Homo sapiens: one gene and its partners. The protein of the gene in region 3 interacts with the protein of the main gene of each other region in a biochemical or structural test. Each region holds a gene or a part of one and is shown on either strand. Other genes may lie near its edges.

Region 1 (7,025 bases), on a different chromosome or scaffold from region 3:
GCCTCAGCCTCCCAAGTAGGTGGGATTACAGGCGTACATCACTACACCTGGCCAATTTTGGTATTTTTAGTAGAGACAGGCTTTTACCATGTTGGCCAGGATGGTCTCAAATTCCTGACCTTACTCATTCGTTCATTTGCTCATTCATAATCCCTCCTCTGTCACTCACAAGAAAATTGCCTAACTTCTCTGAGTCTCAGTTTCTTCATCTATAAAATGGGGATAATCATTTTATCTACCTTATAGCACTGTTGGGAGAATTAAATGAGACAATTCACTTGAAGTGTTTAAAACAGTGCCACCGGGTGTGGTAACCTCAGGTGATCTGCCTGCCTTGGACTCCCAAAGTGCTGGGATTTAAATAATTCTGTTTCTTGGAAGGCCTTGCATTTTTAGGAGGTGATCCTGGAAAGGCTATCCAGGCTGAAATGATCAAAGTGAAATCTAATTAGGCCTCTTAAGCACTTTGGGATGCAGAGGCAGGCAGATCACCTGAGGTCAGGAGTTCGAGACCAGCCTGGCTAACATGGTGAAACCCTATCTCTACTAAAAATACAAAAATTAGCCAGGCTTGGTGGCAGGTGTCTGTAATCCCAGCTACCAATGCTGAAGCAGGGAGAATTGCTTGAACCCGAGAGGTGGAGGTTGCAGTGAGCCAAGATTGCACCACTGCACTCCAGGCTGGGCAACAGAGCGAGACTCCATCTCAAAAAAAACAAAACAAAACAATTAGGCCTCCCAAAATCTATGACCTTGTCATCCCCTCTGCCTGGAAGAACCTGCTGTCCTCTTCTCCTCTGTGCTCCCAGCTCCCACTACCCCCCCAGTACTGGCTCTCGCTCTTTCAGGTGCATGGGAAACACTCCGGGATTCTGTTAAAAGGAAGATTCCTGGGCTCCACAAAAGGGCTCTGAGTGAGCAGGGTTAAGATGAAGCCTGGGCAGGCTGGGCGCAGTGGCTCACACCTGTAACCCCAGCACTTTGGGAGGCCAAGGCGGGCGGATCACGAGGTCAAGAGATCAAGACCATCCTGGTCAACATGGTGAAACCCTGTCTCTATTAAAAATATAAAAGTTAGCTGGGCGTGGTGGCAGGTGCCTGTAGTCCCAGCCACTCAGGAGGCTGAAGCAGGAGAATCGCTTGAACCCGGGAGGCGAAGGTTGCAGTGAGCCGAGATCACACCATTGCACTCCAACCTGGGCAACAGAGCGAGATGCCATCTCAAAAAAAAAAAAAAAAAAAAAAGATGAAGGCTGGGAATCTGCATTTTAACTAGTAGGACAGGTGGTCCATGAACCACATTTTGAATAACACTGATGTTTGTTTCAAGTTGTGTCTCTCTCTCTGACAGGCTGTGAGCAGCTTGAAGGCGAGGTACGTACTACACTCTCACACCTAAGAATACACTGAATGAATGGGTGATGGCTGGCATTTATCAAATGCTTCTTATGCACATGGCACTATTTTTTATTTTATTTTATTATTTTACTTTGAGACAGAATCTTGCTCTGTCACCCAGGCCGGAGTGCAGTGGCGCCACCACCGTTCAATGCAGCCCTGACCTTCTGGGTTCAAGCAGTCTCCCACCTCAGCCTCCTGAGTAGCTGGGACCACAGGCATGTGGCACCACACCCAGCTAATTTCTTTAATTTTGTAGAGACAGTGTCTCACTGTGTTAGCTAGGCTGGTCTCAAACTCCTGGGATCAAGGGATGCTCCCGCCTTGGCCTCCCTCCCAAAGGGCTGGGATTTTAGGCATGAGCCACAGCACCCAATGGCACTGTTTTAAACACTTCAAGTGAACTATCTCCCAACATATTTAATTCTCCCAACAATGCTATAAGGTAGAGAGAATGATTATCCTCATTTTATAGATGAAGAAACTGAAACTAAGGCTCGAAGAAGTTAGGCAATTTTCCTGTGAGTGGCAGAGGAGGAGTTATGAATGAGTAAATGAATGAATAAGAGAAGAGAAGAGAAAGTAACCAGGCAGGTATGCCTGTAATCCCAGCACTTCAGGAGGCTGAGACGGGTGGTCACCTGAGGTCAGGAGTTCGAGACCAGCCTGGCCACATAGTGAAACCCCGTCTCTACTAAAAATACAAAAAAACTAGCTGGGTGTGGAGGTGCATACCTGTAATCCCAGCTACTCAGGAGGCCGAGGTAGGGGAATCACTTGAACCTGAAGGCGGAGGTTGCAGTGAGCCATGATCGCGCCACTGCACTCCAGCCTGGGGGACAAGAGTGAGACTCCGTCTCAAAGAAAAAAAAAAAAAGTGATGACCTAACAGGCGGGCTTTAGGTGACATAGGGAGTAATATGGGGGCTCAGGTGGCAGGGGAGGGGCAGGAGGTAGCTTCCATACCTTGCAGCCCTCACAAGTGATACAGCGGTAGTGATAACCAGTTGCCTTGTCCCCACACACGACACACTGCTCGTCTTTGTCCAGGTAACTAGGGATATACCCTGGGAGGAAGGAAAGGATGGAGGAAGGCAGGCATGGCTTGGAGTCCCAGCAGAGAGGCTCTCACACTTTTCCCCATCCCTCAACTTTTTGTTTCTGACCCCTCTCCTAGCCCAGCCTCCCTGGTAGAATCCTAGAGAGACACGAGGTGAACCTGTCCATCTCTGCCCTAAGAGTATGAAGAATCTCAGTTCTTCTGACTGCCCATTCAGGGCTTTCTTCTTGATCTATCTACAAGGCAGAGGATGGTGGAGAGGGAAAAATAAACGTCAGCTGCTCACTGGGGATAATACAGCCCCTCAGTCCTTCAGCTCAGGCCCTGATTCTGGTAGGGCCTCAGATGAGGGTATTAGGGGAAGAGGGAAGAGGCCGTCCTGACCTAATCCACCCTCAAAAGCTGGGCACATCCCACATTACCTTTCTCACCCCCAGACAAGTCCATCCCAAGCCCTCTAGGAGGCTCCCCCCAGGGAACACATGAATTACTGTTCCACATCCAGGTCCAGAGGAGCCCTGGCTGGGTTTGGTGGGGTTGGGGACGTGGAGAAGGGGCACGCACAGCCAGCCTCACCTGACATGCTGGTTTTCAGGGAACATTGGCCGTTCTTTCTTTTTCGCTTTCCATCTGGTGACCTGGCACTGGATGGAGGCAAAGTGGGCAGAATCACAGAGCAGTCTTCGAGTAGCCCCTTTCTCATCCGAGAGGCTTATGCAATCCCCCAAGGCCTGATTCTTTCCATTTTGTGTCCTCATTCTACCTCCCACCCCCCAGGGTCAGCTGACAATGCTTAAAAGGGTCCAGTTATCTGGAAGTTGCAGGGGAGAGAGATAAGGGGCTTGGCTGTGGCACAAGCATATTCTAGAGCCCCAACACACACACATTCACCCGCCAGAAGACCTGAAGCACCCATAATCTGCAGGACATCCTCATCTTTCAGTACATGACGAATACGCTGGAAGAATTCTCAGGATATGCTTAAAGCTATGTAGCCTTTAGAACACACACATACATATGCAACATAACACCGGCACAGATGAATAACCATGCAACCTTCACTATAAACCCATGGATGGTGAGTATGCACCAGGGCCAACATACCTGTGAAATTTTCAGGGCATTCTTAAATGTGCTATACAACCTCTAGGATATGCCCATGTGTTACACAACACTCTGCACAGGCACCTCATAAAACCACCCTCATCCCTCCAGTGTGCACGTGTTGCTTGAGCTCCAGGTCATACACACATGCTAAATAACCCACAGCAATAGAAAACACTACACCCTCTGCACAGCCTCCATTTAACAGAGCAGCAAACTGAGACCCTGCTTGTGCCTGGTGACACCATGAGCTAGAGTCAGAGCCGGGACTGAGCCCCTCTGTGCAGCGTATTATTAGCAACCCTCAGCCACTGCACATATATGTTGCCAGGCTCTCCACATACATGTTGCATAACCTCGGTGCACACAGGTTACATAAGCCCTCTACATGCATGCAAGGATTGTATAACCTCCCGCACCCACCCTGCGTGTGGCATGTTGCAGGCCCCTTCCTCCTGGAGCCGGATGCAGCTCCCAACACACTGACACAGTGACCTTGGCCAGGGTCACAGTCACAGACAACCCTATGCTCCACGCCCCGTGGGGATTACTCCGGTCTACTTCCTATGAGGCTGAAAGGTCAGGTCTCCCTCACGCCTCCCAGAGGGTTGGGTGCAGGGGAACTCAGCCCACCTAGGCCCCAGTTGAGCTAGCGGCTTCAGCAGTTACCACCAGACTCACAGCCTCTGAGTGTAGTCCTAGAGATAGCCACAAGGTGGCGCATAGACATGGGGGAGGGGAAGGTGATGGGGGAGGGGTTGCAGTCTTAGGAGACTGGGAACTGGCATTCCTGCCTTTCTCCAAACATTAAGCACAGACTCTTCCAGACCCACAGAAGCCTAAGCTGGGAGACACAGGGGCTGCAAGTGACAGCCACACAGCGACAGGCCAGATCGTCCTCAGAGTCCTTCCTGGGGTGAGGCTTTGGGGGAGGGGAGCTACCCCATGCCCTGCCCAGCTGTGAGTTCCATCTACTTCCTCTACCCTCCAGGGACCCAGTTGTGGGCCTTAGGGCTTTGCCTGGCCAGGCCTCTGGCTTCCTGGCTCGGGATCTGATCTCCTAGGCAACAGTCAGCCACACTGCTCCCCGGAGCACCCCCACCCCCACCCTCTCCCTGGCCATAGGCACAGGCTGTACCCAGCTCCCAGGGCACCGTGCCAACTGGGACAAAGCTCTGTGCCACTTGGAGCTGATAGAAAAGACAGAGACCCTCTGGGCTCCTCAAGGGCAATGCAGATCACAGGTAACCATCCCTTGGTGTATGTGCAGGGCTGACACCTCACCCATGTGGAAGCAAAACCATCATGGTTGGCGTGCACTTTCTGGGAGGAGCCCCATCGCAGTGCCCGCCCTTGACCATGAACAAGGAAGAGCTTGTGGGGCTCCCAATAGATTCCGAATATAAGCTTGGGCTATGACCAATAGTTACTGGTGCATGTGCCCTGAAATGTATTACGTGAACCGCAGCTTGTGGACAACACACTTGTGGTCAGATAGTAAATGGGCTGGTAGGGAGAGGAAGAAAATGGCAAGGCTGTTTGGATCCCACATGCTCAAGGTAAGGGCAGCAATGGTGGAAGGGACGTTGGGGGCATCTGAGACTGCCCAGCAATGTCTAGGGAAGAGCCCCTTATGTGCTCCCTGTAATTGCTCTGTATCGCTCCCCGCTTCAAAATGAGCATCTCTCAATCCAAGTGCCTGTCACATCTGAACATGACTTCATCTGCCAGACAAAGGTAGGCAGAAGGCTTGCTGGCCTCACGTCCATCCCACAGAGGTGCTTAAAGGCGGTGCCTAAAGGAGAGCTCAGCCAGGTGCCCATGCCTGCTGCTTAGGAGTTGGCATGACCTAGTTGCTGAACCCATTACCTGTTCTCCTCTGGGTCTGACCCACACTCCACCTTGCTTGGCTTCTGTTCCATTCACTTCAATTCCATCCAGGATGCCCTCCAGCACGCCAAGAGACTGGGGTGGGCACACTGGCCCCCCCGGCACACCCACAGGCCACCCACCCCCTGCCACCCAGGCCCTAGGGCACAGCACCCATGATACCCGCCTCAGCACTTGGCCTTTCACACCATGCCCTGCGCCCCAAGGGGGGCGGGCGGTGGGAGGGGCCAGGGAGTGGCAGGTGGGAGGGCTGGGGGCAAGCTGGGTTTGTGGGTCCCGGGCTGTGTGCTGGGGGAGTAGCTTCGGAGTCTTGTCCTGTCCAGAGATCCCTGTGGAGAGAAGAGAGAGGCAGGGGTAAGAAGGTGTCACGGTAGGAAGGTGGGTAGGATCCCTTTGGTGGCAACATTTGGGGCTTTGGGATCCCATAACAAGACAGCAGGGGGCAGGAAGGGCAGGCATAGAGAGGGGACCAGGATGATCCCTTAGATAACAGGTACAGCAGGCGAGATTGGAGATCCACCTCCTAAGCCCCAGACATGGGAAGGAATGGAGGGAGAGAATGAGATCATTCATGTACTAAGTAATATGTCTCAGTCTTCATATTCAGACAAATGCCTGGCCCTTAATGAGCAACTATTAAACACTAGCTATTGTTACCACCCCTCTAGAAAAGCTTTCCTGAAACTCATCTGTATTATAGGGGCAAGAGGGGACCAGAGACAAGCAGTTTTCAGCATAGGCAGGGAGGGTATCTGTGAAGGAAGGATGGGACATAGAGCGGCACGCAGTGAGCATGAATGCCCATCTTTGTGCCTTAATAGAGAGAGATGTTGAAAGCTGTAGGGAACTGACCTCCCATGCTGCCAGCCAAGTTATGATCCCCAACTCTGGCCCCTCAGGGACTCCAGAGCTTCCCACGCAAGGTCTCGAATCCCACTTCCCAGGCAGAGGACCAGACTTCTCAGTTGGTTTAGCTGAGCTGCTATCGACCAGGATGGCAAGGGGGAAAGGAAAGGAAACTAACACATATTAACTGGAGAGAGAATCTGTACCCTCCAAAGAGGGCACGAGAACTTCACAGATGAGGAAACTGAGTCTCAGAAAGCTTGGTCATTCACTCAAGTTCACACAACTAGTAAGCAGGTGGCTGTGGGATAAGCCTCACAGCCTGGCCCTAATGCTAGCCTTGTTCTGCTACCTGGAGTCCAGGGCAGTGCCAAGCCGGGCCCACCATTCCTACGGCATTGCACCTCTGACCCTGGGCTGCAGACCTGTGGCTTACTGTCTGTGTGCACACAGGCAGGTGTGGCGGGTAGGAGGGGGACAAAGGGTACAGCTCCCCAACATACGACCTCAACCTCTGTCACGTGGCTGCTGCATAGGAGACCTCACCCCTAGGCCCCCTGGCCCCACCCCCAGGAGCTGATAAGCAGCCAGGGTGGGAAGAGAGAGGGAGATAAGTCAGGGGATTGGGCAGGGCCAGCAGCAGAACGGGGCCTCTGCACCCAGGCAAGCTGGTAGTGTGGAGAGCATGGGCATTGCACAGAAAAGTGGCCCGTTCTACCTCTGATAC
Region 2 (7,003 bases), on a different chromosome or scaffold from region 3:
GGATTTATACTCCTTTTCACATGTATACCACAACTTTTTAAAAAGCCCATTGTGCAAAAATAAGTAGGTCACAGAGTATATTTTAATTATAAGATTTTTTTGTGTGTGTGGCTTTCCACACATTTTCTTGTTACTGATCATATATTCCTGAAGTTTGAAAAATACCATTCAATTTAAATAAATAGAAAGACATCTGTTTCAAGCTCCAAAGTGTGGCCTATTCATTGTACTGGCATAATTTTCTATGATTTAGGTTTCACATTTCACTGGTAAGGGCCTAACTCATAAAACCACAGTTTTATACCTAGATATATAGTATCTAGGGGCAGGAGGGGTTTCAATGCTAAAAGGTATTGTTGCCATATTCTTTTTCATCTAATAAAGGTAGATATTCTGGAATTTCATTGTTTTATTTGTTAAGGTATAGGTTTCAAGACTTCCTTTCCTCATTTTCCATCCTGAGCTCCTGTGTTACTCTGAACATAAGATAGCCTTTGGGCATGTATATTCAAAATATCTATGTACTCCTGCTGGGTGATCAAAACCCAATAAGATTGACAGCTAAAGTCTACAGGTGTAAGAAATCTTTGTAAATATAAAACACTACCCATTGTGAAAGGAAAAGTATTACAATAATTTCTGGCATACAATAGCTTCCAAATATATTCAAATTCTATTGGGCTGATTTTAGAAACAAGGTACGTAGGAATATAGAATCATATTTATTCATTAGAGTGTCCTAAGCATCTTTGTTAGGAACTGTTATCCATAGTTTAGCATAGTGGCAATCTAGATTACTTTAGTAATGCCTATATTGAATATACTTCTGCAAACAATTAGAATTCAGAGAGGAATCTTAAAGTGTGTGATCAGATAAACCAAAGCAGACTCCACCCCCTAAACTCCCTCCCACCCCCCCCCACCCCCCCACCCCCACCCCCCCGCCCACCACAAAGAAACATACTGTAGCTGTGCTGGACAGTTCTAAGAAATTCAAGCAAAGAAACTCTAAGGAACTATTGTTGGTACTTAACTCACACCTACCTCAACTCACATTAACCTCAACTTTGAATATTCCAATATGTACCTACATATAGACCCCAAACATATCTATTACTATTCAAATAGTAGAAATATTTTTATAAGCAAATTAGTTGAGTCCTTAACCAAAGATCTTTAGAGGTGTATAGTTTTGTTTTTCAAAATTTACAATATCTAAAATACTTAAAGTGGGAGAATCCTTCCTTAATATATTTACCTAAAAGTGTTGTACCTTAGAGAATTGTCCACCTTTGATAACCCAAGGAATAACTAGAAAGAAATTTAAATGAAATCCTTAAGAAACAAGCTTATTGGATATATCACCTAGTCTATTTTTGGATCGCAAATCTCCCGCCCTCTCTGAGTTATCTCACTGTCAGATAAGAAAATGGAACAGGGTCGATGAAAAGATATGCTCCCTGTCTGGCTTTTCGATTTTTCACTCAAGCCAAAAGGAGCAAAGGGCAGTGAGTTAAGGCTCCTTTCCAACCCTGCTTGCGGGAGGGCAAACCTCTGGCCGCCTCCGGCTTCGGAGCTTATCTGGGCTGCATGGACCAGGTCTCGCTGACCGTTGCCCACCTCTGCCTGCAACCTCCACACCCACATGAAACCGCCCGTATCCACGGATTCCTGTGCACAAAGCCTTAGGGAGCCCCCAAATAGAAACAAATTCTGAGCCCAGAGCTGAGATGGAGGTGGTTGGCTGATGAGACTGGTCTCTCTGGGGTCTGCGAGTGCTAGTTCGTCCCTTCACCTCTCGCACCCTGGCCGCAGATCTATGCCCTGAAATCTCCCTCCTCCCAGACACAGACGTGGGCGCACACACACAAACTCTCACTCATGCACACCCACATCGCCTCTGCCCTCCACCCTTCCCACTCCAGTCAGGACTGTAGGGACTGGTCCATGCTCTACCTCAACTTTCCCGGCTGCGCCTGCCCCACGCGGCACCCGAGCTTCCGCGCCCTGGCTGGGCGCCCTCCAGAGGGACACGTCCTCCTCTGGGACCCTTACCTCGCACCGACAACTCCTGGCAGGAACTGGAGCTGACCGCGGTGGCAGCGGCGGCGGTGAGCCTGCACCCGGGCTCTGGCTCATGGTTGGTCCTCCTCATCCGACACAAAAGAGGTAGCTTACTGGCTTTGTCCTTTCCAAATCCAAGGGAGAACTTATTTTGCCCTCGAAATGGCCAACTTGTGCGCGCAGCTTCCTGTCACAGTGCCCCCTGCCCCTGCCCCCTCCCGGCTGCACGCTGGACCACTGCCCGGTGGCAGAACATCCAGGCATCCGAGTCAGTGGGGAGTGGGAAAACGGAGGGGTGGAGTAGAAGAGAGGGAGGAGGTTGGGGAAAGAGGGGACCCAGTGGTCTTCCGCGGAGGGGAGGGGAGCTCTTCCCAGCCGAGTCCCCTCCTCCTTCTCTTATCAGGCAAACCCACTTCCTAGGCGCGGAAGCAACTTTCCTTCACCTTGACCAGGCTGAAGCCGTCGCATCTAATTGGGACTCTTGGCAGAAGCACGGACCTCCTGGCATCCTCTCCTTTTCATTCTTTCCTCCCTCTCTCGTTCTTTTCCCTCCCCCACCCTCCCTCTTATAAGGGTATATCTGCAGAGTCTTCAGTGAGCCAGGGTACCTAGACGAGAGGATTTTTATACGAAAAGCCAGGGTAGATTTGCCGACTGCTTTGCCTCACTCTGAAATCCTTAGGCAGTGCATGCAAAGGTCGGTGAATTTCGGAGTGGGGTGAAGGGGCATGGGGCGGTAGGGAGGGTGGCGGCTCCAACTTTAAAGCTCTGCTAGAGCGCTTGGCTTTCAGGTAAGCAGGGACTAACAGTCCTTACAAGAACTCTCCTGTGGTCCCTGGGCAGGGGGCTGACCGCATGCCAGAGGAGATTAGGAGAGCGGGAGCAGAGAGGGAGTGTGAGAGCCAGGGAGGCCGGTACGCAGCTCAGCCGTACTCGCGACTCAACTGCACACTGCGAGCCCCTGGAGAGGGTTTGTGCAGAACAATCTCTGGGTCAGGCGGGAGGCAGACGCTCCTGTTTCCTAGCAACCCTTATCAATCTTCTCCCTCTGAAGGAATTCAATTGGACAGCCCCTGGAGAAAAGCCACGCCCATCCGGGAATGCTGGGCTGCTGCTTTTTCGCATTCTCCCAAATTTCTTGGGTGGAATAAGATTATAGGGGACTGCTGAATTATCTTTCTTCTTATCCTTTTCTGCTACCACCTCGCCTCTTAAAGCTACCCCCAGCACCCCCTCATTGGTCCTTCTCTAGTCCTGCTATGGTTGTCGGATACAGTCAATGTTTCCTACAGAACCTCTTCTTTCTTCTTAAAAATAAATAAATAAATAGGAACCTTAAATCGGTGACGTAGGCACAAAAGAGAAAAAGGCACGCGGAAACAGCTTTAATAGGCTGCCAGCTACAGATAAAATCCTAAAGGTAAAATTCCAGGCATCTTTCTATGTCTAGAAACACATACTGTTTAATTTCCAAATTGAAACTTCATTAATTTTTGTACTCTAATATACTAACTTTGTATTAACCAAGGACTGAATTATATGAAGCCAGACACAATTAAACTTAATGCTTTAAATGCTACATTTAGTCTTTAATATTTAATGTTAAGTTGTTTAACAATTGCTGTCTTTTGTAACCTAGCCAGAACTTTTAAACTACAGAAATAATTTTACCTACTGATTCTTTTAGAGGGACAGCAATATTTAAAAGACACATGTGCATATATATATATATATATATATATATATATATATTTCATTGTGAACTCCACTAGATCCAGAAATTTGAATATATTAAAAAATAAAGTGTTATTATATAGTGAAATGCTAAAATTTTAGAAGTCCCCCTTTCAACGTATTCTTTCTGGAATGCAATAGCATTGACCACGTACAAGCAAAATTCCTCTTCCTTTGTGTTTCATTAGTATTTTCCAGCATGAATTGTTCACCAAAAAAAGATCTTTATAGGAATTTAATTTTAATTTTAAGAATTTATTTACTTTTAACAATGTCTGCCCAATAGACAACTGTATATCAAGGGGCAATGACATGAACATGAGAAAGATAAAGATTTATACACTGCAAGGCTTCAGATCCTCATGAAGCTGTGTGGGTAGATTTTGGTCTCTTTCAGAACGTTCCAGAAGACATCATTTTGCGCTTCCAAGACCTTATCAGAATTAGCTGGGATTGAGAGAAGTAGAAGAGAGCTGATGTTTTTGTCTCACACACACAAAAGTAGCTGATGTTTGCACAACGGAAAGTGCTGATAAACTGCACTCCATAGTCTGTATCTAGCTGTTAACTAAGGCTTGTGGTGAGTAGAGGCTGAAATGCTGAGGCAAATTATCAGTCTGTTATCAGATATTGCCTGATGAGACACTTCTTTCCTCTCCCACGTTACGCCATACACACAAAGGAATTCCTCAATGTGAATCCTGAATTTTCATCACTTCCTAGCTGCGTGAACTTGGGCAAGTTTCTTAACCTGCCTATATGTCAGTTTCATCATCTGTAAAATGGGAATAACAATTGCTCATACCTCAGAATTATTTTGAGGATTAGTAAATCCATGTAAGAAGCATATAAATATTAGTTACTATTAAAAATCCCTGGTTTATATAATAGTTAACTGATGGTATTTTAATTGTTGAGCATATTTAATTGAAAGCAATTAGTCTTCACTGTTTAAATTCGTCATTGATCGGGAATATAGATTGGCTTTTAATGTTTATTTGTTGGTGTGTGTGTGTGTGTGTGTGTGTGTGTGTGTGTGTGTGTGTGTTTTCGAGTTACTTTTAAAAGCCTCAAGGGATAGGTCTAAATAAAAACCTCTGACTAAGTAACATGTCAATTAAGAGATTACATTATCCCTCTCTTCACACCCTCCCCAAGTATTCTAGCTGGGCTCCATTTCTAAACAATCCTAGTTCCTTTTCTTAATTACATCTGATGTATCAAGTTTCTCAAATATTTTTCAAGTGAAACACATGTATTTGGGCATCTAGATCACTCCTTGTAGCTCATATTTTTATTAGTTTATCTAAATTTCACTAATTCATCTATATTTGTTTGAGTAACTAAATCATGATGTTTTTTCTTAGGAGTCTTTACCATTAACACTTGGACTTCTTTACAGTGATTTTTTAAATATGGCCTGTAGGCTGGGGGCGGTGGCTTACGCCTGTAATCCCAACACTTTGGGAAGCTGAGGTGGGTGGATCACCTGAGGCCAGGAGGTTGAGACCAGCCTGGCAAACATGGTGAAAACCCCTCTCTACTAAAAATACAAAAAATTAGCTGAACATGTGGTGGGTGCCTGTAATCCCAGCTACTAGGGAGGCTGAGGCAGGAGAATCACTTGAACCCAGGAGGTAGAGGTTGCAGTGAGCCAAGATCACACCACTGCACTCCAGCCTGGGCAATAAGAGTGAAACTCCACCTCAAACAAAAACAAAAAACAAATAAATATGGCCTGTAAAGTGTCCCATCTTTCATCCAGAATAAACGTTGAAAATGGAAGTACTGTCATCATTAATTACAAATAAAATGGCTTCCATGTCCCCATGCTGATCCATAGTTTACTCTCACTAGCATTCTCTTTGAAGCAAACCTCCATTTTGCTTCAGAGATCAATTTCTTTGTTGGTTTCTACTACCAGTCAGAAATGCACTGTTCTCTTTGAAGCAAACCTCTGTTTTTCTTCAGAGATCAATTTCATTGTTGCCTTCTACTACCAGTCAGGAATGAACTGTTATTTTGGTCACATAGGGTAATCAGGCATCCAATTTATGCAGAACAGTTCTGGTTTACATCTGTTGTCTGAATGTATTCATAGTCTTCATTTTATTTCTCAAAGTGTCAGGTTTGGGCATTAAATTATATGGCTACCTAAACCTTCTAGTCATCTGGCCATACCTCTTGCTTCAGCCTTTACTTGCTTCATCTGCCCTGTGACTGTAAATTCCTCTGTATAATTTTTTAAAGAATAGGATTGACTGATCTATTCTGGGGACTTAAAGTACATATGTCCTTGTAAATATATAATACTAAAATTCTCTTTAATTTGCTAATAAGCATCCCTCATTCACTTTTCAACTTCTTTCAAAAATACGTTTCTCCTTAGAACATCTGTAAATTCTTATTTTAATTACTGTTGCAATATATAAAAATAAATGTATTCTAGTCTTGCTTTTGACTGAAGCCTCCATGCAAAGAGGAGCCAATTACTCCATATTCCAAAGTAAGAGTTGTCACACCCCCTGTGCTGGATTCGAGTGGAGTATCCCTAATCCATGTGGAATATAAGAGAGTTAAAAGAAAGGTAGGGAATACAAGCATAGAGAGTTTTTGGTGTTCTTTTAAATATGCAAGCCCAGGGTGAGGGTTTATATACTTTCTCCTTGCTTCAACTCTAATGAAGTGTGCTGCTGCTATAGGAAAACCATTGCTATGTTCCGTTGGAGTTAGGGTGATGTAGTGAACTGCTTCACAGCAGAGAAATATAAAACACTGTGTCTGAATCTGTCTTTCAGAGGACTAAAATAAAATAGGGCAAGTGACTGCACTTGCCCTTATGTCAGGCAAAAGGGATGGGTTTCCTGTGTACTCTATTTGGGTAGAGTGAGCACAGAGCAGGAGACGTGTTTTCTTAGCCCCTACCCAGAAGTACTTGGTGGAGAATCTGTGATTCCAGTAGACAGTCTGTGAAGGGCACAGGGCTGTGGTAATGTCACCTTGTAGGTTGTGGTCTGCACAAAGGCTCCTGGCTGAGAGGTGAGAAGGAGCTGCTTGCCCAGGCTTGTGCATAGGGCTGTATCAACATGGTGGGAGGGCACCTGTCTATACTTCATCAACCTGGAGGTGCCACCATTTTATAATTCACATAAAGGGTGGTAGTAGAAGGCTGAAGGAGAAATGCAGACAACCAGAGGCTTTGGGT
Region 3 (7,860 bases):
TTTAAAATTACATCTGACCTAAAGAAAAAATATTTATTGTTCAATAATATATTCATTTTAAAAATGCTTTTTACACCTATAAATTGTCCCAGCCCAGAATTCTAAGTGCAAAAATGTCAGTGTCTGGCACATAGTAGGTACTTAATCGATATTTGTTAAGTATGTATTAGATATATGAAGAATGTAAGAATCAAGTAAAAATATCAAGAATGTGGGTGTTTGTAGAAAATTGTTTCCCTTTTATTCCATCATTTTCTCCTTAAGAAAATTAAGAAGAAATTGCAATTGCCATATTGCTTTTTCTTGTGGGTGATATCAACCACAAATAGCAAGGTAGTTTTGGAGTCATGAAGCAAACTTCCCCCTGCTAAGATCTGGGTAAGGTTTTAGCCACAAGAGGCCTAATAAAGCTCTTGAAGCATTTCCTAAGAGCTCACAGAAGATTTAAATGCCCTACTACTTTCAACTAGACAAATCCAATTCATTTTAACAAACAGTTTTGAAGTGCCTACTAAGTGTAATGCCTTGTGCTAAATGTCTGGAAGAGTGAGTGTTAGGTGGAGCCCTCAATGGGTATAAAGAAATATGTATGTTTGGGAGTTGAGGGTGAGGGTGTGGGAGTTGTGTGAGTAGGGAGAATGGGACAAGAAAGAAACTTCAAGTGTATATCCACCCCTGTCCCCAAATACACTCCTGACCCTAAAAGAAAGGTCATTTTAATATTGTAATTACATATGTTTCCTGGTTTTATCATTACAGCTTAAGAAAACAGCACCACAAGTATGGGTGGGGTGCTAGAACTCAATGAATCCACTTTGGAACAAGAAGCATGGGTGGAACTTGAACGTTGTTGGACAAGACTGAAGCAGATGGCAAGGCAAGGTACCGTGTTACTCAGGTGCATTCTTGTAAGTATTTGGACAGCCAGTTAAACACAAAGAAGAACCCAATTATGGCAAATTGATTCTGCAAAGAGATTTTATTTTAATCATCAACTGACAGTCTTAAGTTAAATACCAAATAGAGCAGACATAAAGATTTTGGAAAAAAGTGTGAGGTAGCAACTCCAAAGCAGTTATCAATACTTTCCTCAATTATCTAGATTTTTAGCGACTATCTTAGTAAACACTTAAATCTCCTTTCAATGCAGGAGATCAATGCTTCCATAAAATTCAGAAAACTGAGAAAGTTAAAAATATTTGTAAGAACTATAAATTGCTTGGGTTCACTCTCTTCCTTGTATGTAGTACTTATAAAAGAACTGATACAGATGAATAGAAAATACTGATTGTTTCATGTTTATGATGTAAGAAGACCATCAACTTCTCAACATCAAGATAAGTAAATGCCAAAATCAGGTCAGAAAAGAACTTTTCAGAATAAGGGCCTGCCTTTAAAAGTCTCAGCCAAAACCGTAACAGAAAGGATAGTCTCTTAGTCATGATTTATAAACAGAAATTGTACGTCTGTACCAATTGTAGAGGATAAAGTCAAAACAGAATTTACAGCCTCCTGCTAATAGCCTAATTTAAAATGTATAATCTTCCCTACATTTCCCCCAAAGTACCTTTTAAAGGACTCACTCTGCTATCCAAACAACTTGCAAATGCATTCGGTAAGTTGGTCTACAGTATTTATTCTCTTTCCTGTTATTGACTCAAGATCTATTTCTCATGATTTGCTTTGTGCTCATTCTTCTGCCAGATAAAATATTAATTGCATTTTTAGCTGCACTGCTGGTGATCAAAGAATTCTGATATGTCAAGCTAAACTGACAGAAATAGCATCCATTAACATATTTATAGGTTCAGAGCTTCTAGAACATAATTATATCCATTAATTACTCAACAGTACTCTATATTACAGGCTGAAAAAGAAAGGCATTTGCAACTAAATACTTTTACTCAGAATGAAGTTTTTTTTTAAATAATAAATTTTCTCTAAGGAAGGTTCTATCTAAAGGAAATAAGGCAAGAGAGCTCACATATCTATATGGACACAAGGCAGGATTTTTAAGGCATCCATTTACTAACTTTGCAATAGAATGCTCACAAAGTAAACGAGATGGCACATCCAGAATGGTTTCAAATAAAATAATACCTTAAATATTACAGAGAAATTTAATTACTATTTTAGAGTTCTAAGAGTGACAATCTGAAGCTGGTAATTCTTGATGATAAGATTCCGAGCAATGATTTTTACTTTCAAATAAACTTCTAGTATTACATAGGACCAAAGCATTTGGAATTACATACTTTTCTGAACATGCAATTCTAACACATAAAGAAATTAAAGCTGTCCAGGGAAAAAGCTCTTAAGATGTTGGAAAGTCATAGAACAAACAATTATTCTGTGGATCCACCAGCTGTGCGAGTCCTGAATCTGCCAGCTGCATTTAGTATATGTATCATAGAAAGGACAGTAACACACACTTGACTCCTTTTGGCCAGTTAATCAGCATGCAAAATGACGGTTTCCCACAATAACTTCAGCACCGGACCCAAACACATTCTCTTTTCAGCAAAGAATGAAGTCATTAAAAAAAAAATCACACAAGCTGCTTTCATAATTTCAGCACGAACACAACCGAGATGTAAGGACAGAAAGCAAAGCCGAGTCTACCTGTACATATGTATCTATACATATTTCACTGAGTTCTTTGTTGCCTGACAATAAATTGCAAAGGCAGTCATATTTGAAAGTAAAAACCATTAAACTGTGTTTATAGGATACTGCAACAGACTCGCTGAGGGAATAACAAGGAAAGCACGATACCTTTAGTAAGTCGCCTCAGAATTTGACAACGGCATTTAAAAGAGACAGCTATCATTCTTGCTCACTGCTTTCTGTGGCAAAGTGTACTCAAGGCTCTCTGCTCTGGTGGCTGCAGCAGCAGCAGCATATGAATTCCTTGCGCACATACCAGGAGAAAGGTAGTCCCAGTGGGGAGTGACAAAGCTTAATTCCTCTTGGCTGATGCAGAGGTCCGCTACATGTCATCTGGCAAATCTGTGTCATTCACTACTACTACCACCCCTGCCTGCCACAGCCTCCTCCCCCTTCACAATCACAATGGCTTAGAAAGTAATGCCGTTTCGATAGCAACAAAGCACCAAATTGTACAAAGCAGGGACGACACTGTGTGAGGAGCCATTCCATAAATCTAACGCTAAGCACTGAACAGTGCATTCTGTTTAAGGCAAAAGGCGATGTATCCAGTCAGTTCAGCCACCATCAGCCCCTTTCCTTCTCAGCATCAAGTCAGTGTCCTTTATATGTCTCATTTAATGGGAAATGCAAGTGAAATGCTTACACTCTTACTTTAGGAAGAAATGCATGGGTCATGTACTATGTTCTTTAAACAACAACCAAAAAAAAAAAAAAAAAAAAGGAAAGAAAAAGAGGGAGGGCCGTTTATATTTGGGATTGAGGAAAGAATCACAGTTCTGCCTATAGCGGGGAAGCAGCTCTAGGACAGAGACCTCTTTGGTACTTCCTGAACCTATGAGAGTTAAGGCAGTGTCTGTTTATAGAGGGAATACAAGAAAGGGTTAGGGCTAGGCAGACAATCAGGCAGATGGAGTCCCAGCCCCTTTAATCACCCTTCCAAAAAAGGACTTGGCTGGAAAGCAACACAGTCAAGACTGTTTCTAAAGATACCAGAAATAAAGGCAAACAAGGCCAAGTATTTCTATTTTTAATATACTTTATTATACTATTTCCCAAACAACCATCCCCCAAACCATTCTTCTCATTATGCAAATAAAACGGTCTTGCGACATAGCAGATATTTGTGAGTATCTGCTCCAATGGAGTGAAGAGCAAATTAACAAACCCTTCACAATCCATTCACAAAGTGATAAGAAGGCGGAGCACACCTCCTCATCTGCCAGCAGCAGCCTGCTCGCCATATAGTCAATACGAACTAACATTTGGTAGGGAATTTTAATCAAAATCCAGAATTCTCCCACAGGAGTTAACATAAACATTCAGGACAAAAAATTAGACAGTTGGCCAGGAAGTTTAAGAAAAAAAAAATCAATTAGTCAAAATGAAAAGATATATCACTGTCTAAACTACTTGATTAATATTTCTAGGACTTTATGAATTATTCATACAGTTTTATTCTCTACTCTTCAGGCTGTGAAAAAACTTTCAAGCTGGTTTTTAAAATAACTTCCAACATTCCAAATTTAGTGGTAAAACTTTCTTTTCTTCATTCATAAATTCAATATGAACTCAAACAATTTCAATCCACTGCTATTGAAATGCATATGCTTTGTATTTTGAGTCCAATAGAAAAATAATTTGTGTGTGAAAAACATCTGAATATCATAAGCATCTACTTTAAAGGTTTTTGAAAAGAACAGAATTCTTTTACCAAGGATGGTCTAGCTAAAGCAACCACTAATCAATAGAAAATACTATATTAAATGGACTGCAGTGCAAAATCAAATTTTTATAATTGTTCTGATTAGCATAAATCTTTCTTTGAATTTCAACCCATATTATGTTCATCTCTATTAGGTTATCCCTAGAAATAGTTTAGCCTCCTTGATATTTTTTTGCTTTAAATAGAAATATACCTTAGTACTAGAGAACTGAGTTACTAGCTAAAGTGAGATAAATACTTACAGTTAGCTCTTTCCAAGATTCTTCTCCAAATCTAACATATTTCCTAAAATCCAGGCACTCAGAATACGCAGCTGTCAATTACTATTAGTAGAATCTTGCCTGTGGAACACCACCACCCCAGCCCAGTCTATTCAAATACAACTCAAAACCATACAGGAATCTCTTGCCTTCTGCTATTTTGCAGACTCAAATCCAATTTGCTTTTTCCTTATGACTAAAATGATCAAATATTTTCCCCTTTTCCTAATATGCTTATTTTTTTTGTTTTGTTTTAAAAGCTCTATCCTCTGGTCCCAAGAAAGGTCTTCAGAACTACTAAAATGTCCTATTTCTTTGGCAGGGGAAATAACCCATCATGGAGCTCTTTGAAAGGTTTCTGAGAGCCCAAACTAGGGGATTGTTTTTTCTCTCTTTGAATACTGTGGCTGCCAATCCATATCTATCCTATTAGTCTGCCCAGGTGCAGCCCCAGGAATCTTACAGAAATGGAGCCTCCTGGAGTAATTCTTTTCCAGAAAATGAACGAATTCACCAGGTATTCCCATCTTCTTCCATTTCTGGCCTCGCTAATGCTTGGAGATTTCCTGGGGAGCCACTCCCAGGTCAACCTTCTTGCCCTAAACCCTTTGTCCTCCCTTTGCCTAATGCAAGCTTAGCCTCCCATCCTGAACTCTAGCACTGGTAAAATGCCTTCCAACAATGCAAGCCTTCTATCTCAAAATGTATCGATCTGTAGGATGAAGGTCTCAAATGGCCAAGGCAACCGGTGGAATGTGGACCACAGGCTCCTAACATGAGCTACTACAAGGCAGAGTGACCTACATTTCTTGGCTACCAGATCAATGTAAGCATGTGTCTTTGGGACCTGTCATGAACATGTTAATTATGGTGGCTCAGCTGTCTAGACAGTTCAAACTTTACAACATGCTCTGTGAGGGTCACCAAGTAGGGGTTATGGAAAAAGAAGGCAGGTAAAATTGTACAAAATACAGATTTGATTAAGCCCCAATGTGATCTGAAGAAGAGTGAGTGAGCTAGTTCAAGAGGTTTACCCCTCTTAAAAACACAAACACCTCAATACATGAAAACATGGGTTTGCTGGATTCAGGGCAGACTAGTCCCTTAAGATGATAATTCTTATTTCAGGGTTTCTTTAAAACATTAGTTTTGCTAAGGTGTAATACAAGTGTACCACGTTTACATAGAATTTAATGAATTAGAAGGCACTTTCACACATAATGTATCATGGAGCGACTCTGTTATAGGTTTTTGATGCAGAAAAGGAAAACTGGTTTCAGAGAAGGTGTTTTTCATCAAAGTCATTCAGCTAGTAAGTGGTAAAGAACAGGAAAGAACCATAGCTTCTCACCCCTGGCTAATCATTCTTTCTCCTCTTGTTTTTCACTGCTTCCTTGCCACCAATACAAAATGTGATCTAGTTTACAGGGGGACAAATTCAATTAACAAAGTACCTTTAAGTGCAGTTATCTTTTGACAGAGGGAAAAACTAGTGCCTATCACCTTCTCCCCTCTGAAGCACAGCTCATGGTTCTAGGACCACCCTGACCAGAAGGAACCAGAAACAGGTGACAGTTAAGGCAAGTACCGTCTGGTGAAAGACCATTACGTATCAAGTGTTTACAGGAATCCCTTCTCACTGCATGGTTAGCCCATCCTGACTGGCCTGTGTCATGCTGGTTTTGAAATATTTGGAATATCACCTCCATTGACAATATGGTACTAATTTTATCATAAGAAGGGGGTGGGTTGTGGTGTATGGACAAACAAAACCTTAAGATTGGCTCAAAGATTCCAATATAGTCTCAAAACCAAAGCATTCCACAGCTTCATCAGCAGGTGGCACACATAGCCCCATAATCTTATTCTAATTTTCTCATTTCCTTGATTCTCCGCCATTGTATTCATTCTTTTATATAACATCTCCATCCCAAAAATAAATAGCGCTGTTTGGAGGTTCTTCTGATTCTTAACAAGAAAGAATCATCATAAACCAAAAATGTTCTGCCATATGCCTAAACCTGGAAATTCATTTTGCAAAAAACCAAAACAATGAGGTTAATCCCACAAATACTCAACTATTTTATATCATTAGAATCAATTTGATTAAAGTGCTAAAATAATTTGCACTTTCTTCAACTTCATAAATCTTTCTGTTACAAAATATACCTGATAGATCCCATTTATTTGCTTATTCATTTAACTATTACATTTCTTTTCCTTTGCATGCTGTTGCTTAAAAATGCTTAACATGCTTAGCTCACTATTTAAACAGCATGGAACATCCTGACTTGGCTAGTATTGAATATACTGATCCCCACACCCCCTACCCTGCAACACATACACAGTTATTAAATGTTGTGTATTTCCCAAATCTTCCGGGTATTTTAAAACTCAGTGTTCTCGGAGGTCTTAAAATGCGACTCTCACCCACTTTTTCATCTCCTTACAGACAACGTCACTGACTCATTCTTAGCTTATTATAATCGGCCATTTTTACTTCCCTTTTCAAAGATGCCAAAAGCAACCATGAGCTCAAACATGTTATAATTCTTGTGACCACTGTCTGCTACTTAGTTCAACTAGTGTGTCAACATGAGACCAAACATTAGGGTCAGACAAGGGAGATGTACACTGAACAGAACTCGCCAGTAATGAGCTGTCATGAAGGACTATTAAAAAAGCAAGACCCAATTTGCTGACACAGGTTCTAAGGGTGTGAAAAGTTGGTGTAATTGCCCAAGACAGAATTTATCAGGCATTTTTTAAAGCAAATATTTTATGAGAAAACATTTTTATAGAAGTAATGATGCCCTTTAGGAAGTGTCATTAGGACATACTCTTGCAAATCTGGGGTGATTAAAAAGCACTTAGTAGCTCAGGGCCTCTGGTGTGTTGTGATATAAAAGGGTGGGTATAATGCACACTTCATGTGTCATTTGCTTATCTAGGCAGGGCTCTGATGCCCGTAACAGTGCCAAGGAAAGAAGGTTGCCTCCACTGAACATGAAGAGACCAGGAAAGCTCCTGTGAAGGTAACAACCTTAGAAATTCATCAGCTAAAAGCATCTGGTGGAAAATGTTAAAGATAGAATATGTAGAAATTGAGAAATGCTTGTACAAGAGGAAAAATCTACCAGAAATCATCCTCCTAAGAGCCTAGGTATGTCCAACTGTTTATGGAGGTATTATGTAGGAGAGAATGGT
Region 4 (7,025 bases), about 19 Mb from region 3:
GAAGGAGAAAACACTGCGACTTTACCAAGCCTCCAAAAGGAGATTCTATAAGACTGTTGTGTCAGCTGAGATAAATATTTCAAATGTGTTATAAAAATTGTTACACTCTAAAATTACACTCTATAAAAATACTAGCTATTGCATTACTATTATTTTTCCAGGCATTTAAGAATAGGAGAGGAGGAGGAATAAATTCAGGTAAAAAGGGGAAGGCTGTGAAAAAACACCTTGAACGATTGCATGGAGCATGATCCATTCATTCGTTGTCTACCAAGCCCATCCCCAAACTTTCTCCTTTTTTTTGTGCCTTAAGACCCTATCCTCTGTTAGTTTCCTTTTGATTTTTCTCACACAACTTTTCTTCTAATACCTATGAGGAAATACCTTCCTGAGAAGACAGAGTATGGGAGGGAGAGAAGGAGGAGGGGAGAAAGGAAAGGAGGGGAAGGTATTCTTGGAATATCTTACTCTGAAAGCTTTCTTTCTAACTCACAAGGAAGAAACACTCTGTATTATAAAGCTATTATCACATTCTGGGAGGGGTACCTTCTAGTACGTTAGTAAGGAATTCTACAGGAACAGGGTTTTTCCTATCCCACTCTATAACAGTTACCTGTTAAAAAAAAACTACCAGAGGATGCAGTGGAGCCTGCAGGGCAGACCTGACTGTGATGTTTGCTGTTTGCCACCCGTCCTTCCCCAACACCAACAGTGATTACACATTTCATTTTTTTTAAATTGGCTGTCAATGTTTTAGAAATCAAGAGTTTACATTTTTGAAAAAAAATCTGAATGTCCAGCTTTCTATGAAAAAGTCAGATAATCTGGCCACACCAGGCTGAAGCTCCTGCCGGAAGCCTGCTGGGCCGAGAGGGGCTGCTCCCATCAACCAGCGTGTGCTCTCCAGTCCATCTCACCGGGTCTGCATCCCTCCAGCCTCACTCATGACCCACCTGGCCCTGGCCCCCTGACCAGCACACACTGACAGCAGAGCTCACGGTTAGAAGTGCAGGCTCTGGAGGCAGCTGGCCTGGGTGTGCCCAACCCTGAATTCTCCCTACCACTAGCTGTGCAACAAGAACCAATGAAATGCACTCTCTAAGCTTCTGCTTCCTCACCTGTGAAATGAGAAAAATAACACCACCTACTGCATAGTCTGTGAGGAGTCCATGAGATAATCACGTCAAGTGCTCAGCATAGTGCCTGGCACGTAGTACCTGCTCAGTAAACGTTAGTGCTTATTATTGCGCACAATTACTGCAATGACTAAGGAGAATTCATCTGAGTTGCAGCCCAGTTTTTGAAGATGATTTAATGACACAAAGCAATTGCCCTTCAACCCTCCTTTCTTGCTCAGGCACCTGGTCTACAGACAAAACCATCTAGTGAGTATATCTGTGACATGTTAGTTATTGTGTGGAGCAGGGGCACTTCAGAGACAGGATTCAGATCTGTTCTCGGGGCTCGGAGTAGAGTGGGGGGAATGGACGATGACAGCACTGACAGGTGGAGTTACGCACAGAGCTCTCCCCACAAGCCCTGCCCAGGACCACGCAGGAGCTTGGCATTCAGGAGGACCTGGGGGTGGGTCTGACTCTTTTCTCCTTCTCCTTCTAGGCTCCAAACCTTCGGGGGGCTTTGCTAAAAGACACCCAACCTCGAATTAGTTCCACTCCATTTCCAGTTTCCCAGGCTGTGCACGTGGTTTCAACAAAGCCGGTCAGACCTCAAATGGAGTTCATTATAATGGAATTTTACCTGAGGCAGCCCCTCCCCCACTTCTTAACATCATGGCACCCAAGATATGGGTGTGCTTGCCAAAGAGGCTGGGCAGAAGTCACTTCCTGCCCCTGGCAGAAGTCCGGAAATTCAGAGCCGTTTGGAACAAAGAACTCTGCCCCGAAGGTGTTTTCCAGCATCTCCCTGGCCAGATTGGAACTGCCCCATTCACCCTCGTACCACCTGCTGCGTTTTTTCCAGCCCTCCTAGACAGGAAGGGGAGGAGGGAAGACTGAGCTGAATGACCAGGACACTGCAGGAAAGGCAATGCACAAGTGAGGAAGAGAACATGCACTCTGGACTTAAGCCTGAATTTAAATTCTGGTTCTGATTTAGTAGCTCAATGTCTTTGGGCAAGGAATTTAGCCTCTTAATCTCTATGAACCTTGGTTTCCTCTTCTATAAAATGGGTATAATTTTACCAGCCTCGTAGGATTATTGAGAGGCATAAATGAGAAAATGCATGAAAAGCACTGAACATAGTACCTGGAACATAGTGAGTTATAGTAACCATTGGTTATTATGATTGTCAGCTATTACATAATATGGTAACCTCACAAGGGTCAAAGGTTGGTATAGAAAGAGACACTGGGTGGAATTGGGGTGAGGGGATGGCTGGAGAAGGTAGAGCCCTGTCCCTGATCCCAGCACAGGCCTGGGAGCCAAAGTGAGGCCCAGGGCAGAAGCACCTGCCTGCCCGGAGCTGACAGGCACAGACTGGATAGGTAATTACAAAGTTGAGAGCTGAGGTGGCCCATGCAACTGTCCAGCCAGCCACATTCCTTTGTCCCATGGGTGGATGGGTGGTGAATATCTGGCTGTTTATGTGGCTACCAGGATGGTGAGTGTAGTTAACACCTCTTTTCCCCAGTAGTCCTAGCAGGGTATTCGACCTTCAAAGGGAAAGGGATTCTCTACAGGCATTTGGCTCCTTTCCCCATGGCATCGCCTCTGTTCCCTCCACTCCAATCCTCCAGCTACCCCTTGCTTCTCAGGTTAAACAAGTCAAAAGGCCAAAGAACAAGGCCAGACTCTGAAGAGATGGCCAGTAGAGACTACTAAACTTCACCCCATCTCACTGGAGCCCTTAAATGATCAAGAAGCCCAGGACAGACATGAATCCATCACTGCCCCAGCCCTGTGTGCTTTGATTAGCCAGCAAACTCATGGTTCTTATACTTCCATGTCCTTTTCTCAAAACTGATGCCCAAGGAAAATATATATTCCTCCCCAGGTATTAATTGAGCACATAGTATGGGCTCACTGCTGACACCAGGCTCTTGGTTGAACTGAGGAGACCACCAAGTGTTTGGGAGGATGTAGAACCGTGGGATCCCTCAAGCACTGCTGGTGGAAGCCCAGAGAGGAAGGGCTTCAACTGTACTTAGAGGCCCAGCACAGAGCTCTCTCTGAGACATGTCTCAGGCTGTGACATGTATGTGGTCACCTGTACAGAGTGCAGCAGACAGGCACACACATGAGCCAGAAATTGGGTCCCTAGGTCATGAATAATACAACTATTATAGCTAATCATTATAACTGTAGAAACTCATCTAATGCAACTTTTTCATTTTAGAAATGAAGCCTGTATCAAGTGTTGAAAAGGATGGAGAACAATGGAGACTTTCATCCACTGCTGGAAGTGTTTTTTGGGACAACCACTTTGGAAAGCTGTTTGGCACCCTATAGCAATGCTGAACATAGAATTCCATGGGAGGCAGCAATTCCAACCCTAGGTATGTGCCCTACAGAAATTCTTGTGAGTTTCTCATGAACCAGAAGACAAGTATAACATGTACACCCCTAGCAGTACTGTCCTATCGTAATAGCTCAACTGGAAACAACCCAAATGTCCATCAGTGAGAGGAGGATATACAAATCGTGGTGTATTTTTCCAATGGAATTCTACACAGCAGTGCAAACTCATGAACTGCAGTGGTGTGCATCGACATGGATGAACCTCAGAAAACTCATATTGACTCAAAGAAGAGTGCATCACAGAGAACACACAGGTATGCGAACTTCAAAGCCATGTGAAATGAAACAACATAGTGTTTTGTAAAATCTACATAGATGATAACTTACAAAGAAAAGCAAGGAAACAATTAACCAAAATTCACTTTGGGGTGGGGAGTAAGGAAGGGGAATGCAAATGGGGAGAGGCAGAGGGGGCTTTTAAGGTGCTGTGAATGCTCCACTCTTAACTTAGGTGGTAGGTACAGGGTATAGGATTCTTTAATCTATACATAAACATATAATCTTGTGTATGTGATATATCGCGGTTTTTAAAAATGAACAAAAAAGAATTGAAGAACCCAAGTTGCAGAGAAGCTAAGTAACCTTCACAAGCTCATCAGCTAACAAATGACAGAGAAACCAATTTGCCAAATCTGAGTTTAGTCAGGTGCCAGGACAGCCATTCCTGAGTTCTAAACGGGCCTCTCACAAGGACAGGCTTCTGGGCTAGAAATTTTGAAAAGAAGTGCAAGAGTCTCTTTTTTCCCCACTGTTAAATTCCCAGTGTCTTGACTAGTACCTGGCACACCGTAGGCTCTTGGCCCATATCTACTGAATACACATGCCTTTCAAGGGCCTACTGTGTGCCAGGCACTTGACTTACATCATCTAATCCTCACACAGTCCTACAAGGGAGCTATTACTATACCCAGTTTACAGGTAAGGACACTGAGATTTGGACAGATTAAATAACTTGCCCAAGGTCACAAGCTACAAAGCGACCTCGCCAAGATTTGAACCCAAGAGTCTAACTCAGACCCTGTGTTTCTCCTGTTCTGCCAGGCCACTAGCTTCTAACAGCACTACCTAAAATTTTAGTCATCTACCAAGGAACCCTGAGACCCACAGGGGGTGGGGCAGGCTGAGCATTTTCTCTTCCTGCGACCTCTGTCTCCAGGCTCTGACAAAGCGGTTTGTATGGCCAGGCCCAGGGCTGGCAAGCCGTGTAAAGCAGTGGTTACAGGCTGACTCTGCAGCCTTGGGCAGGTGGCTGCATCTCTTTAGACCTTGGTTTCCCCACTATGCCTGCTAGAGAACATAACTGTACTTACCCCAAAGAGAAGCTATGAGGATTGAGGGAGGCAAGCAAAGCAATGTGCACGGGGCCTGGCATGAGGCTATCAGAGGAGGCTAGAGTCCATTTCTCCGTCCAGCTGGGCTAGGTTCAGGAGCCCTTAAGGGATAGCCAGGAGAGGGAAAAGGTAGGCAAAGTGAGAATAGCTCCCCATTGGCCAATGGGACAATCAGCACATAGTAGGTTTTCAATAAAGATGCCTGTTTGAAAGATTGTTTCCTATTTGCCTTCCAGACTATTAGAGTCATATTTGATTCCACACAATTTCTCTGCACAATCCTACCTCTGTTGGGTTCTTGTTCTTAACCAGAGTAAGGTGCCCAAGACTGCCAGAGAGGCATGAAGATCTAAAAGTGCTGGCAGAGGGAGCCTCCTTCTGAGAGGCCACTGTCCCCAGAGTAACCTTTGGGCAGTCCAAGCCTGTTCTCAGGTCAACTTGTTCAAACTAGTTAGTACATCTAACCTCTCAGCTCATAAACATTTACTGCGGGTGTATAATGTACAAGACAGGGCACTAAGTGCCCTGTGGCCATCCCATGAATGCAGAGGTGGGAGAGTTCCATGCAGGTTAAGAGCATGGGCTTCTGCAAACCTGAGAGGGAGTCGTGGGTTTCCTCCTCACAGGCTATGACAGCTTGGCATGTTGATTAACCTCACAGAGACTCCATTTCCTCATTTGTAAAGGGAACATAACTGGTTCCTACCTCACAAGACCTAGTGATAGGTCTGGGAGGCACGTAGCACAGCACCTGTTACCAAGTGAGTGCTCAGTAAGTAGCTGAAGCTACAACTCCAGTACCAGCAGGTGGCACACACTGGATGTGTCACCAGCAAAGCCTCGGGCCTCATGGGTATTCCACAGTGCCTGGAATGTCCCACCTTGCATAACACCTCCAAGCTCCAGGTTGTCATCAGAAGGCCAGTGAGAGGCAGCAGCTTCTCAGGAACCAACTGCCGAGTCTGCACAGACTCCGCTTTCCCGCCGGTGCAGCTGCCCACACCCTGCTTAGGACCAGGACTCTCCCCTGTGCAGAATGAGGACTTTGTATGGCATCTGGTTCTGGGAACACCACTTAGTCTATTCCCTGGCACAGGACCTGCAGGGCAGGTTTGCAAAAGCATGACACACATTCCAACTCACAGAGTACTGACTGCTTCTGCCTTCCACTCCTGCTATTCACCAACCAGACACCCCCATCCTCTCCCAGCCAGCCTTGGGGTGGGGCGGTCTCACCACCTACCCCCCTTGCCCACAAGTCACTTCAAAGACATGACTTCCCAAGAGATCTTCACTTGCACTTTTCATTTGTTGGCAGTGAGAATGACTTCCTTCCTGGCAGAGTAACTGAGAGTCACTACATGGTCATCGTGGCGGCTCTGCTCCCTCCACGCCTATGCCCGATCACCCACAGGCTGGACCTCTGGGGATCCCACCCTTTGCATCTGGACCATGAGGACCCAGGACCCAGAAGGCAGGACAGTTTCTCTTCCACATGTCGCCACAGCGGGATGCAGGCACTGCCATCAACGCCTGTCACTTGGATTGAGCAAGAACAGCCTCTCCCCACCCTGGACCATTTCCCCAATAGTCAGACCAGACCAAAGAGGCAAACTCTAGTGTCTTTGGGAACTGACTCTGTCTCCTGCAATGCAGCTTCTCCCTGGCTTTGGCCTCCACTTTGCTTTTCATTTCCCCGGAACCTGATTATAGGTGACCTATGTCCTTTATCAGAGTGGGCGAGGTTTGCCTACCCTTGCCTTCCTGGCTGCTTACCTGCTTTACAGCCAGACTTTCTGTGGGATAGTGTGGTCCCCAGAGGTCTGGGAAGCTGGATGAGCAAAATGTGGAGGCTGTAGATATGGAGGAAGAGGGAAGAGGAAACGTGAGGCCCAGTCTTGGCTCCACTATGAACCCCAATTTCCCCAGGGGAAGCTGAAGAGGAGTTGGCAGACCTTCCTGTCCCTGTCTGAGGTTGGGGTGGGGCAGGAAAACCAAAGGTGAGGCCAGTCACAAGTCAAGGGTGAAGGGAAGTCACACGAGTGGTGGGCTGGGTCCCAGGACAGGGTGGCCGGGAGCAGTGCCGCCCCAGGGAAAAGACGAGAATTGGCTGATAACACCAGGGAGCAGGCTAGGGTGTCGGGGGCTGTCCTCAGA

What was found.
Region 1: the proteins of GRIP1 (region 3) and THRA form a complex in vitro, tested with the Homo sapiens proteins (2 studies listed by BioGRID).
Region 2: the proteins of GRIP1 (region 3) and GRM3 form a complex in vitro, tested with the Homo sapiens proteins (one study listed by BioGRID).
Region 4: the proteins of GRIP1 (region 3) and VDR form a complex in vitro, tested with the Homo sapiens proteins (one study listed by BioGRID).

The regions. Positions count from the first base shown.
Region 1 is NC_000017.11:40,072,948-40,079,972, reverse strand, and holds part of THRA (thyroid hormone receptor alpha), read right to left. Parts: exon of another isoform or gene 6,305-7,025; intron 5,782-6,304; 5' UTR 5,485-5,781; coding exon 5,432-5,484; intron 3,103-5,431; coding exon 3,035-3,102; intron 2,466-3,034; coding exon 2,365-2,465; intron 1-2,364.
Region 2 is NC_000007.14:86,639,925-86,646,927, reverse strand, and holds the start of GRM3 (metabotropic glutamate receptor 3 isoform 1 precursor), read right to left. Parts: upstream 3,020-7,003; 5' UTR 2,056-3,019; intron 1-2,055. UniProt on the Homo sapiens protein: G-protein coupled receptor for glutamate. Ligand binding causes a conformation change that triggers signaling via guanine nucleotide-binding proteins (G proteins) and modulates the activity of down-stream effectors.
Region 3 is NC_000012.12:66,676,075-66,683,934, forward strand, and holds the start of GRIP1 (glutamate receptor-interacting protein 1), read right to left. Parts: upstream 3,003-7,860; 5' UTR 2,831-3,002; coding exon 2,776-2,830; intron 1-2,775. UniProt on the Homo sapiens protein: May play a role as a localized scaffold for the assembly of a multiprotein signaling complex and as mediator of the trafficking of its binding partners at specific subcellular location in neurons.
Region 4 is NC_000012.12:47,894,990-47,902,014, forward strand, and holds part of VDR (vitamin D3 receptor), read right to left. Parts: intron 6,722-7,025; exon of another isoform or gene 6,645-6,721; intron 4,970-6,644; exon of another isoform or gene 4,848-4,969; intron 1-4,847.